Homo sapiens: one gene and its partners. Changing the gene in region 3 together with the main gene of any one other region gives a genetic interaction. Each region holds a gene or a part of one and is shown on either strand. Other genes may lie near its edges. The genes, in order: PMVK, ALS2CL and NF2.

Evidence for each region.
Region 1: changes in NF2 (region 3) and PMVK together harm fitness more than expected from each alone (negative genetic interaction), as found in Homo sapiens cells (one large-scale study listed by BioGRID).
Region 2: changes in NF2 (region 3) and ALS2CL together harm fitness more than expected from each alone (negative genetic interaction), as found in Homo sapiens cells (one large-scale study listed by BioGRID).

What each region holds. Positions count from the first base shown.
Region 1 is NC_000001.11:154,930,073-154,933,719, forward strand, and holds part of PMVK (phosphomevalonate kinase), read right to left. Parts: intron 2,344-3,647; coding exon 2,280-2,343; intron 1-2,279. UniProt on the Homo sapiens protein: Catalyzes the reversible ATP-dependent phosphorylation of mevalonate 5-phosphate to produce mevalonate diphosphate and ADP, a key step in the mevalonic acid mediated biosynthesis of isopentenyl diphosphate and other polyisoprenoid metabolites.
Region 2 is NC_000003.12:46,683,551-46,687,197, forward strand, and holds part of ALS2CL (ALS2 C-terminal-like protein), read right to left. Parts: intron 3,599-3,647; coding exon 3,433-3,598; intron 2,890-3,432; coding exon 2,758-2,889; intron 2,095-2,757; coding exon 1,975-2,094; intron 498-1,974; coding exon 439-497; intron 299-438; coding exon 232-298; intron 1-231. UniProt on the Homo sapiens protein: Acts as a guanine nucleotide exchange factor (GEF) for Rab5 GTPase. Regulates the ALS2-mediated endosome dynamics.
Region 3 is NC_000022.11:29,676,486-29,680,132, forward strand, and holds part of NF2 (merlin), read left to right. Parts: intron 1-1,710; coding exon 1,711-1,838; intron 1,839-3,647. UniProt on the Homo sapiens protein: Probable regulator of the Hippo/SWH (Sav/Wts/Hpo) signaling pathway, a signaling pathway that plays a pivotal role in tumor suppression by restricting proliferation and promoting apoptosis.

The DNA of each region.
Region 1 (3,647 bases), on a different chromosome or scaffold from region 3:
TTTGTTTTTTAATGGGAGTGGGGGATAGAGTGGTGCTGGACTTGCACAGAGCAAGGGCAGTCTGGCCTATCAGAGTCTTCCATGGAGCTTTTAAAAATGCAAACTGGCCAGGCACAGTGGCTCACGCCTGTAATCCCAGCACTTTGGGAGGCCGAGGCGGGCAGATCACAAGGTCAGGAGTTCAAGACCAGCCTGACCAATATGGTGAAACCATGTCTCTACTAAAAATACAAAACAATTACCCGGGCGTGGTCACCCATGGCTGCAATCCCAGCTACTCAGGAGGCTAAGGCAGTAGAACTGCTTGAACCCCAGGAGGTGGAGGTTGCAGTGAGCCAAGATCGTGCCACTGCACTCTAGGCTGGGCGACAGAGCGAGACTCCGTCTCAAATATAAATAAAATAAATAAATAAATAAAAATGCAAACTCCTGCTCCTTCTTCCTCCCGCCCCCCACCCAACCCCACCAGTCTCACTCAGTAGGACAGAAGCAAGACCTGTCTGGGAACTTTGGAAGATCAGTTTTGAAAGTGCTCCTGGGAGGCCTTTGGAAGTGCCTAGGCCCCACTAGGGAAGGCTCAGTGCCTTCCCCTTCACCCCTTCCTTCCTCCCATCCCCCCACCACCACCCCACCACCCTGCAGCATCGCTCCCAGTCTGTCTCCTGGATACAAAGAAATTCTGTATCCAGTTTCATTTGGGAAAGAATCCTGCTTAAAATTTTTGAAAACCAGGCCAGGTAAAGTAGCTCCTGCCCAAATCCTAGCACTTTGGGAGGCCATAGTGGGAGGATCACTTGAGCCCAGGAGTTGGAGACCAGCCTGGGCAACATAATGAGACTCCCATCTCTACAAAAAAAAATTTTAAACTTAGCCAGGCATAGTGGCATGCACCTGTATTCCTAGCTACTTGGGAAGCTCAAGTGGGAGGATCACTTGAGCCCAGGAGGTCAAGGCTGCAGTGAGCCATTATGCGCCACTGCACTCCAGCCTGCGCTACAGAGCAAGACCTTGTCTCAAAAAGAAAAAAAAATAAACCACTTAATTTAGTTATTCTTACAATTCCTCAGGCTGCCACCCTATGAATAGGTCTGTTCAGCTGGTGAGAGATGACCCAATGCTTCCCATGGAGGCAAAGATGGCATATAGAAGGGGGGACAATTCATTTTATGTGGTTCCGGAAACCACACTCTGGCCAATTGAGGGGCCAAAGCACACGTCCCAGAAGGGTGCACCTAGAGGTCAAGGGCAAAATGTGGCGACAAGAGGGCTCTTCACCATGTGGGAGGCTGATCTTGCCTTCCAAGTTCCCTTTCTGAAGTCTAAGATTCTGAGAGTTCCTGTTGACTTATTTTTTTTATTCTATTTTAACGATTCTATTTTTTTTAATCCATGTGGTTCAAAATTCAAAGATACACATTAATTTACAGTCGAAAATCTCTCTCTCACCCTGTCCCCTCCCTGGGGGCAACCAATGGTACGGTTTCTAACCTGTCTTTCCCATGCAGTGCAGGAACACATCCCAGGCACCTGAAACAGTGCTGAACATGAGACAGGCACCCTGTAAATATTTGTTAAATAGCCAAATATATGAGCAGATATATTTAGAATTCTTTTACAATTCTTGGTCACAAAGTGCCTCTTCAGTTTTAGACAAATGTAGCATTCTCTACACACTGTTCTATATCTTGGTATTGGCTTTTTTTTTTTTTCACTTAATGATATATTTTGACAACTTCTGGGACTAAATTTCTTTTTTGTGTGTTGTTGTTTACTTTAAAAAAAATTTTTTTTAAAGAAACGGAGATGGGGTTTCACCATGTTGGCCAGGCTGGTCTCTAACTCCTGGACTCAAGCAATCTACCTGCCTCGGCCTCCCAAAGTGCTGGGATTACAGGCATGTGCCACCGTGCTCGGCCTGTACTAAATTTCTAGGAGCAAAGTTCTAGGGGCTGTGTCAGGCCAGCTGAGTGAGAGGGTGGTGTGAGGAGGCACAGGCAGGTCCTTACTAATCACACAGCATCAGAGCTGCCAACTCGAGTGTCGACAGCCTTTCCTGGGCACACCTTCCTGAACTCACTCTGAAGGGAGGGAGGCTATTAGGAAAGAAATATAAGCTGAAAATGCCCCCGAAAGGTCCACTCACAGAAAACCAAGAGCTGGCCACCACCCTGCCAGCAGTGGTGACGGGAATCATGCCAGTGACTCAGGCAGCAGCCACAGCTCCAAAGTCCTGGAGCCGGCCCCGCCCAACACACCGGATGCCACAAAGCACCACCTACCTGAGCATACTGTTCCTTGAGTGGACCAGAGAGCCGGAGGACAGCACAGACATCAGCTCCAAGTCTGCAGGACAGGGAGATCAGAATCCAGTTAGCCTAGAATTTCCAGGAGCTTCCATGTCCCAGAAAGGGAGTCAAGAGGCCTGTGTTGAAGTCCCATTTCTACTACTGGTATTATGTAACTTTGGTAGGTCTCAATGTCCCTGATCCTGTTTCCTCATCAGAAAATGGGGATAACACTTTCTGTTCTGTCTCCCACACAGGATTATTATGAAACTCTAAAGAATATAAAAGAGCCCTGAAACTAACAGGTAAAACCTATAAAGTGCTAATTACAGTGTGAACAGGCGCACAATATTCTAGCTGGATTAGGTTATTGCCCAGACCCTAAACTAATTCTCTCATAGCCAGAGGTATCTGTCTCCACTGACTTGGTCACCATAACATATATCATTTATTAATTCACTGGTTGGGCATGGTGGCTCACACCTGTAATCCCAATACTTTGGGAGGCCAAGGCAGGAGGAGTGCTTGAGGCCAGGAGTTCAAGACCAGCCTGGGCAACACAATAAGACCCAGAGATACCATCTCCACCAAAAAATTTAAAAATTAGCTGAGCATGGCAGCATGTGCCTGTACTCCCAGCTACTCCAGAGGCTGAGGTGGGAGCATTCCTGAGCCCAGGAGTTCCAGGCTACAGTGAGCCATGATTGTACCACTGTATGCCAGCCTGGGAGACAGAGTGAGACCCTGTCTCATAAAAATGAAATAAGAAAAGCAAATTTAAAAAACTGAAACAAAAGCCAGGTGTGGTGGCTCACGCCTGTAATCCCAGTACTTTGGAAGGCTGAGGCAGCAGATCACCTGAGGTCAGGAGTTTGAGACCAGCCTGACCAACACGGTGAAACCCTGTCTCTACTAAAAGCATAAAATTAGCCGGACATGATGGCGCATGCCTGTAATCCCAGCTACTCGGGAGGCTGAGGCAGGAGAATCACCTGAACCCAGGAGGTGGAAGTTGCAGTGAGCCGAGATCGCCCCATTGCACTCCAGCCTGGGCAACAAGAGTGAAAATCCATCTCAAAAATGAAAATAAAAATAAAAATAACTCATTCGTTATTTAATTTACTTAACCAACCTTTTTTTTTTTTTTTTTTTTTGAGACGGAGTCTTGCTCCACCACCCAGGCTGGAGTGCAATGGCGCGATCTCGGCTCACTGCAATCTCCGCCTCCCAGGTTTGAGCGATTCTCCTGCCTCGGCCTCCCAAGTAGCTGGGATTACAGGCGCCCGCCACTACACCCGGCTAATTTTTGTATTTTTAGTACAGACGGGGTTTTGCCATGTTGGCCAGGCTGGTCTCAAACTC
Region 2 (3,647 bases), on a different chromosome or scaffold from region 3:
GACCTCAGGGCAGGGATCAACACAGGACCCAATTCTGTCTTTAGAAAGAAAAATACCCTGTTCTTTTTGACATTCTAATTCTTGACCCCGATTTACTCTGACCAGGTCCCCAGAAGCCTGCCAGACACTCGCCGGCACTCCTGTGGGGCCCTGCAGGGTTGCATACTTCTGCCCTCTTCCTACCCTGTCCTCTGACCCCGCTCCCGCAGTTCACAGCTCACCCACACTCACCTGGCCCTGGGAGTCCTTGGCACAAAAGGAGAACTCTTCTTCGGGCGTGAGGAGGTGAAACGTGCACCTAGACAGACGGAGGTGATGAGTAGGCCCCAGCTTTGTCCAGGAGGGTGGAGGGGCCCAAGCCAGAGTCCCAGGGTGTGGGCAGGTGTCATGGGGGTAAAGGGAAGAAGGCCTGGGGTGTCAGCCGAGGGGGTTGCTCACCCGTCCTGCCCAGGATCCACCCACACCAGCTTCAGATCAAAGGTGTGGACATTGTGGCCCTGGAAGAGGATGGACACAGGAGTCATCCAGAGCCCAGGCCAGATGCTCACCTACCCTCTGGCCAAGGCTTGCCCCAAGCTCAACCTTGTGTGGCCACCAAGGCTATTCTGCCCAGCATGTCCAGGACTGAGTCCCTCTCCCCTCTGGCTTGCTCCCCACCTCAGGGACAGCTCCTCCATGTCCTTTCTACCCCAGAGCTTGGCCAGGAACTCAGAACCAGCCTCTAGCCCCCTGTGGCTACCAGAGTGGTCTACAAATGAAGCTGGGACCTGGTCAACCCCTGCTGGAAACCTCTCTATGGCTCCTACTGCCTGGGGGTTGAGACACTGCTGAGCCTAACATTTAAGACCTCACAGACCACTACGCCATCAGGGCCACTCCACAATCACACCTTCATGAGCTTGCCCCAACCTCTCCTCACTGTGAACTTTTGCTCATACTGTTCCTTCTACCTGGAATGCCATCCTGCTCTGACAGCCAGAAAAAAAGCCCCTTCCTATGGGAAGATTTTGTGTAGCAACTTCCTACCCGGCCCAGTCAGGCCAATCACTGCTCCATACCAGAATGGGGAGGACGTGGGAGGCCCAGGCCTGAGGGGTGAGGAGGAGCTTGCCAGCCGCAGGCCAGGGACAAGAGATGGCCCACCAGACACAACAGCATGTGCAAAGGTCCAGCGTCAGGAGAGGGCTAGCACAGGGAAGGGACAGTAGCTCATCAGTGTACCTGGAGTGGAGTGTGAAGTTGGGAGTGGAGGGGAATTCAAACTAAATCAGAACCAATCCCAAAATCAGGCTTCAGGGGACACAGGTCTAGGCTGGGCAGCAGCTTCCTGCCAGGCCCCGGCCACCTGTCTGCAAGGGGGTTCCAGGCCAACCTTCTAAGGGGTAGAGAAGACTGTGCTGTGGACCTCACCAGGACAACATGATTTCAGGATGGATGAACCACAGTTGGTGACTGGCCATGTAACAATTCCCAGCCTCAGGCCTGGCTCCCTTCTGACTTCCACAATGCTGAAAGCCCAGGCACTGCTCCTGTAGGGTACTTTTCTCTAGAAGCCTTCTCATCCAGCCCTCCTTAGTCACCCCTCAGTCACCCATGACTTTCTGTCTGGGGTTCCTCTCTCATTTGAGTACAATGGGAACTAAGAGTTGTCTGGTGTCTACTGTAGAACAAACTCACTCACAATGACCCCCACATTCCCGATGGGAAAACGAAGGTGAAGACATGTAACCAAGGACACCAGCTGGGAAGGGCTGAAGCCGGGACAAACCCTGGACAGCCTTTCCCCTCAGCCCATGCTCCTCTGGGGACAGCTCCAGTGGACCGCCCCTCCCCAACACAACGCCTTTCTATCCCTGACCATCCCTCCCAGCCCACTTTCTCAGTCCCAGCAGCATGCCCCTTTACTGCTCCTTTTCCAGCCAGACCCCAGAACCCTACTGTGGCCTCAAGACCTTGGGTCAGCCCCACCCCAACCTGCAGCAGGACGAGGGCATCATCAAAGAGCAGCACACGCTCAGCCCGCAACGGTGCGACCGTCACGGGTACGTCCTGGCTGTCCTGAAGGAGTCTGTGAGCAGGGGTGCAGAGCACATCCTGGTGGGGCAAAGAGGACAGTACAAGGCTTAGGCACCTCTGTCCTGCAAGCTGCCTGCCACTCTGCCACCTCCCAATGTACCCCAGACACCTCCCAGAGGCCCCCTCCAGTAGACCTGGAGCGGACCCTGGGTCAGAGATAGGCAGAAATGCACTGATTATACATTCCTGGCTCTCTTGAAGCTTCAGTGTCCCCTCCCACACCTCTGTGCCACGGCCCCAGCCATGCCCCTATCAGTCCTCTCCCAGTACTCGGCCACCCCTGCCTCCCTTCCACAATTCTCGTTCCTCTACCTAGTCTCCTAATTCTCCACACCAGGTCCAAACCTCAGGGCACAGGGGACTCTCCTCCCTGCAGGGGCAGTCCATGCCATGGTGGGCAGTGACGCAAGGGTGTGATCGGTGATATCCCCAGGGGAGAGGACTGGTTCTGCTGATTGCCTCTTCCCTAGGCCGGGTCAGGGCCTGGCCCAGGACGTGCTCAGCAGACAGATAAGAATGGCTGGACAGAGGGACCTTACAGCCACCTGCTTCAGCCATCACTCCCCCTTCCATATAGGGAAACTGAGGCCCAGAGAATACAGCAAGCAGCTCAAGCCCCCCAACATCTCCATGCCCAATGTGGAACCCCCTCCCTAACTGCCCCTCAGGCCCCCAACTCACCCTCAGCCGGCCTCTCAGGGTGTGCCAGAGAGCCTGTGTGGCCACAGCCTGGTCCAACTCCTGCTTCATGAAGGACTGCAGGTTCCCAAAGAGGGTGACTGCGTTCACCACCAGCTCCCGGGTTGGGTGATGCTGAAGGGGGACAGGGCAGCCAGTGAGAGGAGAGCTTACTGGAATCTTCCCTAGCCCAGTCCTGGTCCCGGCTGGTGGGGAGGCCTGAATCTAGGCCAGACCTTGCCCTTCTCTCCCTGACAGCTCCTCTTCTGCTGGTGGGGCAGGGGGTGGAATATGAAGGTGCTTCCCCAGCTTGGCCCTGGGCCCACGTGTCCTCATTCCCAGGACGTGATTCTACCCCTGCTCTCTGGGTCTCTGCTGGCTCTACCAGGGCAGGGCCACGTGCCTCAGACACCGCAGGGAAGGGCAGTGCTTTCACCCACTAAGATTCCCTAGGACAGAACCATGTCTTCGGACCCCCTCCTCAGGGCTGGGCCACGTCCCCCATGTCCCCTGAAAACCACAGGACAGGCCTGTGACTTCCTCAACCCTCTCCCACCTGCCGGCATGGCTGAGTCCTTCTTGTACTAGGGTTCCTGAGTATAGGCTGAGCCCCCTGAGTCTGGGCCCTATCCCTCCCTTCCCTCGGCTTCCCCACATGCTGCTGCCCCTGGTACCCACCTCCCCAATGGTGTCCCCGAGGCTCAGCAGGAGGAGCACGTACTGTTGCACGTGATGGGCGAGTGGCTGGTGGAGGGCCTGGCCCAGCGATGCGCCCACCGAGCCCTCTGAGCTCACACCTGAAAGCAGCTGCCGCAGCGCCTTCCGCTGGCCCCGCCAGTACTCGCTGCGTGTAGAGAGGGCCACGCACCACCTTCACCCCTTCCTCCATTCCT
Region 3 (3,647 bases):
GTTTTTAAAATATACACTGGAGCAAAGCTTATACACTGCTGTAACTGCTCTTTCCTCTTAGCAGTCAATCCTGAAGGAGATCATCCATATCAGCTTTTTAATCATGTTTTGTTGTGTGGATGGATTGTAATTTATTTAACCAGTCCCTCATGGATGAGTATTTAGTCTGTTTTCTTTTGCAATTTTGAACAAAATGACACTGAACATCCCTGAACACAAATCTTGACACACACACGTGGATATATTGGTAGAATAAATTCTTATAATAGAACTGTGGGGTCAAATTTTCGATTTTGATACTCTCCAAAGAAGTCATACCAGTTCATGCTCTCACTAGTGGTGCAGCAACTAGTACGCGTTTTTGCTGAAAATTTTTATGATGTGTAACATACACATAGAGAAGTGCCCAAATTACAACTGTACAGTTTGAAGAATTTTCACAAACTGAACATACCCATGTACCCAGCACCCAGATCAGAAAACAGGACATCCCTGGCACCCAAGGAGCCTTCTCTCAGCACCCTTGCAGACGGTCTGCCTCAGGCCTTGAGAATGTCTCAAATGAATGTTCCAAGCCTCTGCTCTTTCCCAGACACTGTCCTAGACTCAATACGGGATCCAAGGATGAAAAAGAGGCAGATTGTTTGCAGGAAACTTGCAAATAGTAGAAAGAAGATACAGCCAAAAAGAAATCTTTTACAGGGTGGAATCGCAGAAGAACCATTAGAGAACCGTAAACACAGCGTTAAGGGACAGCAAAGAAAAGGGTTGCCGGCTGGCTGGGAGGGGCTAGAAAGGCTTTGGTGAGAGATCGTGGTGTTTGAGAAGGGCCTTGAAAGAGGGATGGAGCATAGGGAGGAGAAATGGGATAGGCAGGGGTACAGAGATGGGAAGGCAGTAGTCCAGGGGATAATAAACAATACTGTCTGTGACTTAGTAGGGCAAATAGTAGGAGAAGCCGGGAAGCTAGATTGGGGTCCTCTTTAGATGACCCTTTGTGCTGGGATGAAAGTCCAAAAAAAAAAAAAACTACACCACCCCTGCTTCAGGCCCTACTCCGGTTCCATTGTCCAAGCCCAAGCCCCTCGGTGGGCCGGTGGGGAGCCCTTTGTGGTGGTGCCCATCTCCCACCCCACCTCTCCACACTGCATGGCAGACTCCTGGCACCCTCACTGGGCACTGCCCCACCCATTGCCATACTTCCCGTCCGGCAGACCTTCTCCTGGCACTGCCTTGGATCCCAGCAAAAGCAGCATCTCTTCTAGCCTCTGTTCGCTCCCTGGCTACAGTGTTTACCTTTTTTAACAGTGATGATCTGTGAACACATCTATTTCCTGAACAAGACTTTCAGCTGCTCAAAGCCAAGGATGCTGTCTTGTTTTCTGCATCTCCAGCCCCTTGCACAGGGCCTGGGAGTTTCCTAAATGAAAAAGCGAGTGGGAGTTTGTGTTTGATTCAGCTGAGCATGAAGAACGGTTAGAGATTTGAGGGATGATTTTCCTGGATTTGTAGTCTTTGATATTGTTTACCTGGCAGTGGCAAATGTGGAGGGAGTGAAGTGGAGGGATGGGGACTCGTGGTGGCATTGGGAGGTGGGACCCGAGTTGTGCCCATTGCCTCTGTGGCTGCTGGAGGATCGGTTGTCAACACAGTAGTGTCCTTCTGTGCTTGTATGACCCAAGCTCCTAATCCGAAATTTCTCATTAACAGCCCATGAACCCAATTCCAGCACCGTTGCCTCCTGACATACCAAGCTTCAACCTCATTGGTGACAGCCTGTCTTTCGACTTCAAAGATACTGACATGAAGCGGCTTTCCATGGAGATAGAGAAAGAAAAGTATGTAGCCCCCTGTGCCCTGCTGTGGGCAGCTGTGAACTAGACTGAGTGATTGGGGCCTTGGGAAGCTGGGGCAGAGGTGAGAGGTCGCTGCAGCAGCCTGTCATTACTCCTGCAAAGGTTTGCTCTGCTCTTACACCCTGGAGGAAGAATTTCCTTAATCAGAAATTAAGGACAACAGATCAGCATTCATTCTGAACGAATAAAAATAACAATTTTTATCCAGGATAAAAATAACACTTGACTGGTGAGCTGGAGTTTTTGGTGGCTCTAAGCCTCACCTAAAGTGTAGGACTGGGTTGTTAGCATCTCTGAGTCAGTTCAACTGCTGTTATACTACTGGACTGTAGTCACCTCCTAGTTGTGTTCTCCAGCAACTGGGATCTGTGGTGGTTCCCATGTCTAGAACAAACAAAGGTGAGAGAAGAGACTCAGGCTCGAGGCTAAGGAAAGCTGACAGCTGGTGGGGCCACTTTGCTGCAGTGGGTGGCACTGGGCAGGGCCCCAGCATGGCCTGATCATGGCAGCAATTGCTGAGCTGCCCTCCGTCTTCCCTTTATTGTGGGTAGAAGTGGATCAGAGATGGAAAGGAAAGGATCCCCACTGCAGAGGAAATCTAAGCGAGGGCCCCTAGTTCCCAGAGCTAGCGGTAAGTTGGTTAACTGCTGCTGCTTGCTAGAGGACAACCACAGTAGCTACCATGCATTGAGTGCCTGTGTGTCAGGGGTTTTGGCTTTTGTCTCATTTAATTCCTGCTAACTTACAAACATCAAAATGACATCAAAGGTAGGTTTTCATGTTCCCATTTTATAAGTGAGAACTCAGATTTAGAGAGTTTAGTGAACTCCACCAGCATCCCACAGCTGATGCAGAGGGGTTGAAACCCCTCACCCATCTGACTCTGCAGCCCATGTGCTTTTACCATGGGTGGTATCCTCAGGAAAACCCTTTGGGGAAAGTGTCTCCATGGAGTCCAGTATGGGCAACCAGAACCCAGGCTGTTTTTCTTTGGGCTCTCACACTGAGGGTATAGCTAAGTAGCCAATGAACCAGAGCCTCTAGCTGTCATATCTGCTGTCCATGTTCCTTTCACCATTATCCAGACATATACATTTATGTGGTTGGGATCCGGGATCAGGGTGAAGCTGTTCTGTGTCTGCTATTTTATAGTTTGTATTTTGTTACTATCTTAGTTTGTTTTGGCTACTGTAACAAAATACCAGAGGCTGGGTAGCTTATAAACAACAGAAATTTATTTCTTGGCCAGGCACAGTGGCTCATGCCTGTAATTCCAGCACTTTGGGAGTCCAAGGGGGGCAGATCTCTTGAGCCAGGAGTTCAAGACCAGCCTGGGCAACATGGCAAAACCCCATTTCTACTAAGAATACAAAAATTAGCTGGGTGTGGTGGCACATGCCTGTGGTCCCAGCTACTCGGGAGGCTGAGGTGGGAGGATTGCTTGAGCCTGGGAGGCAGAGGTTGCAGTGAGCCCAGATTGCACCACTGCACTCCAGCCTGGGCAACAGAGAGACACCCTGTCTCAAAAAAAAAAAAAAGAAAAGAAAGAAATTGATTTCTCACAGTTTGGGAGGCTGAGAAGGCCAAGATCAAGGCACGGGCAGAGGTGGAGTCTAGTGAGGGCATTCTTGCTGGTTCATAATCAGCCCCTTTTTGCTGCATGCTCACCCAGTGGAAGGGATGAGGGGTCTCTCTGGAGTCTCTTTTATAAGGGCACTAATCCCATTCATGAGGCTCTACCCTCATGACTGCCCAAAGGCCCCACCTCCTGACACTTTTTTTTTTTTTGAG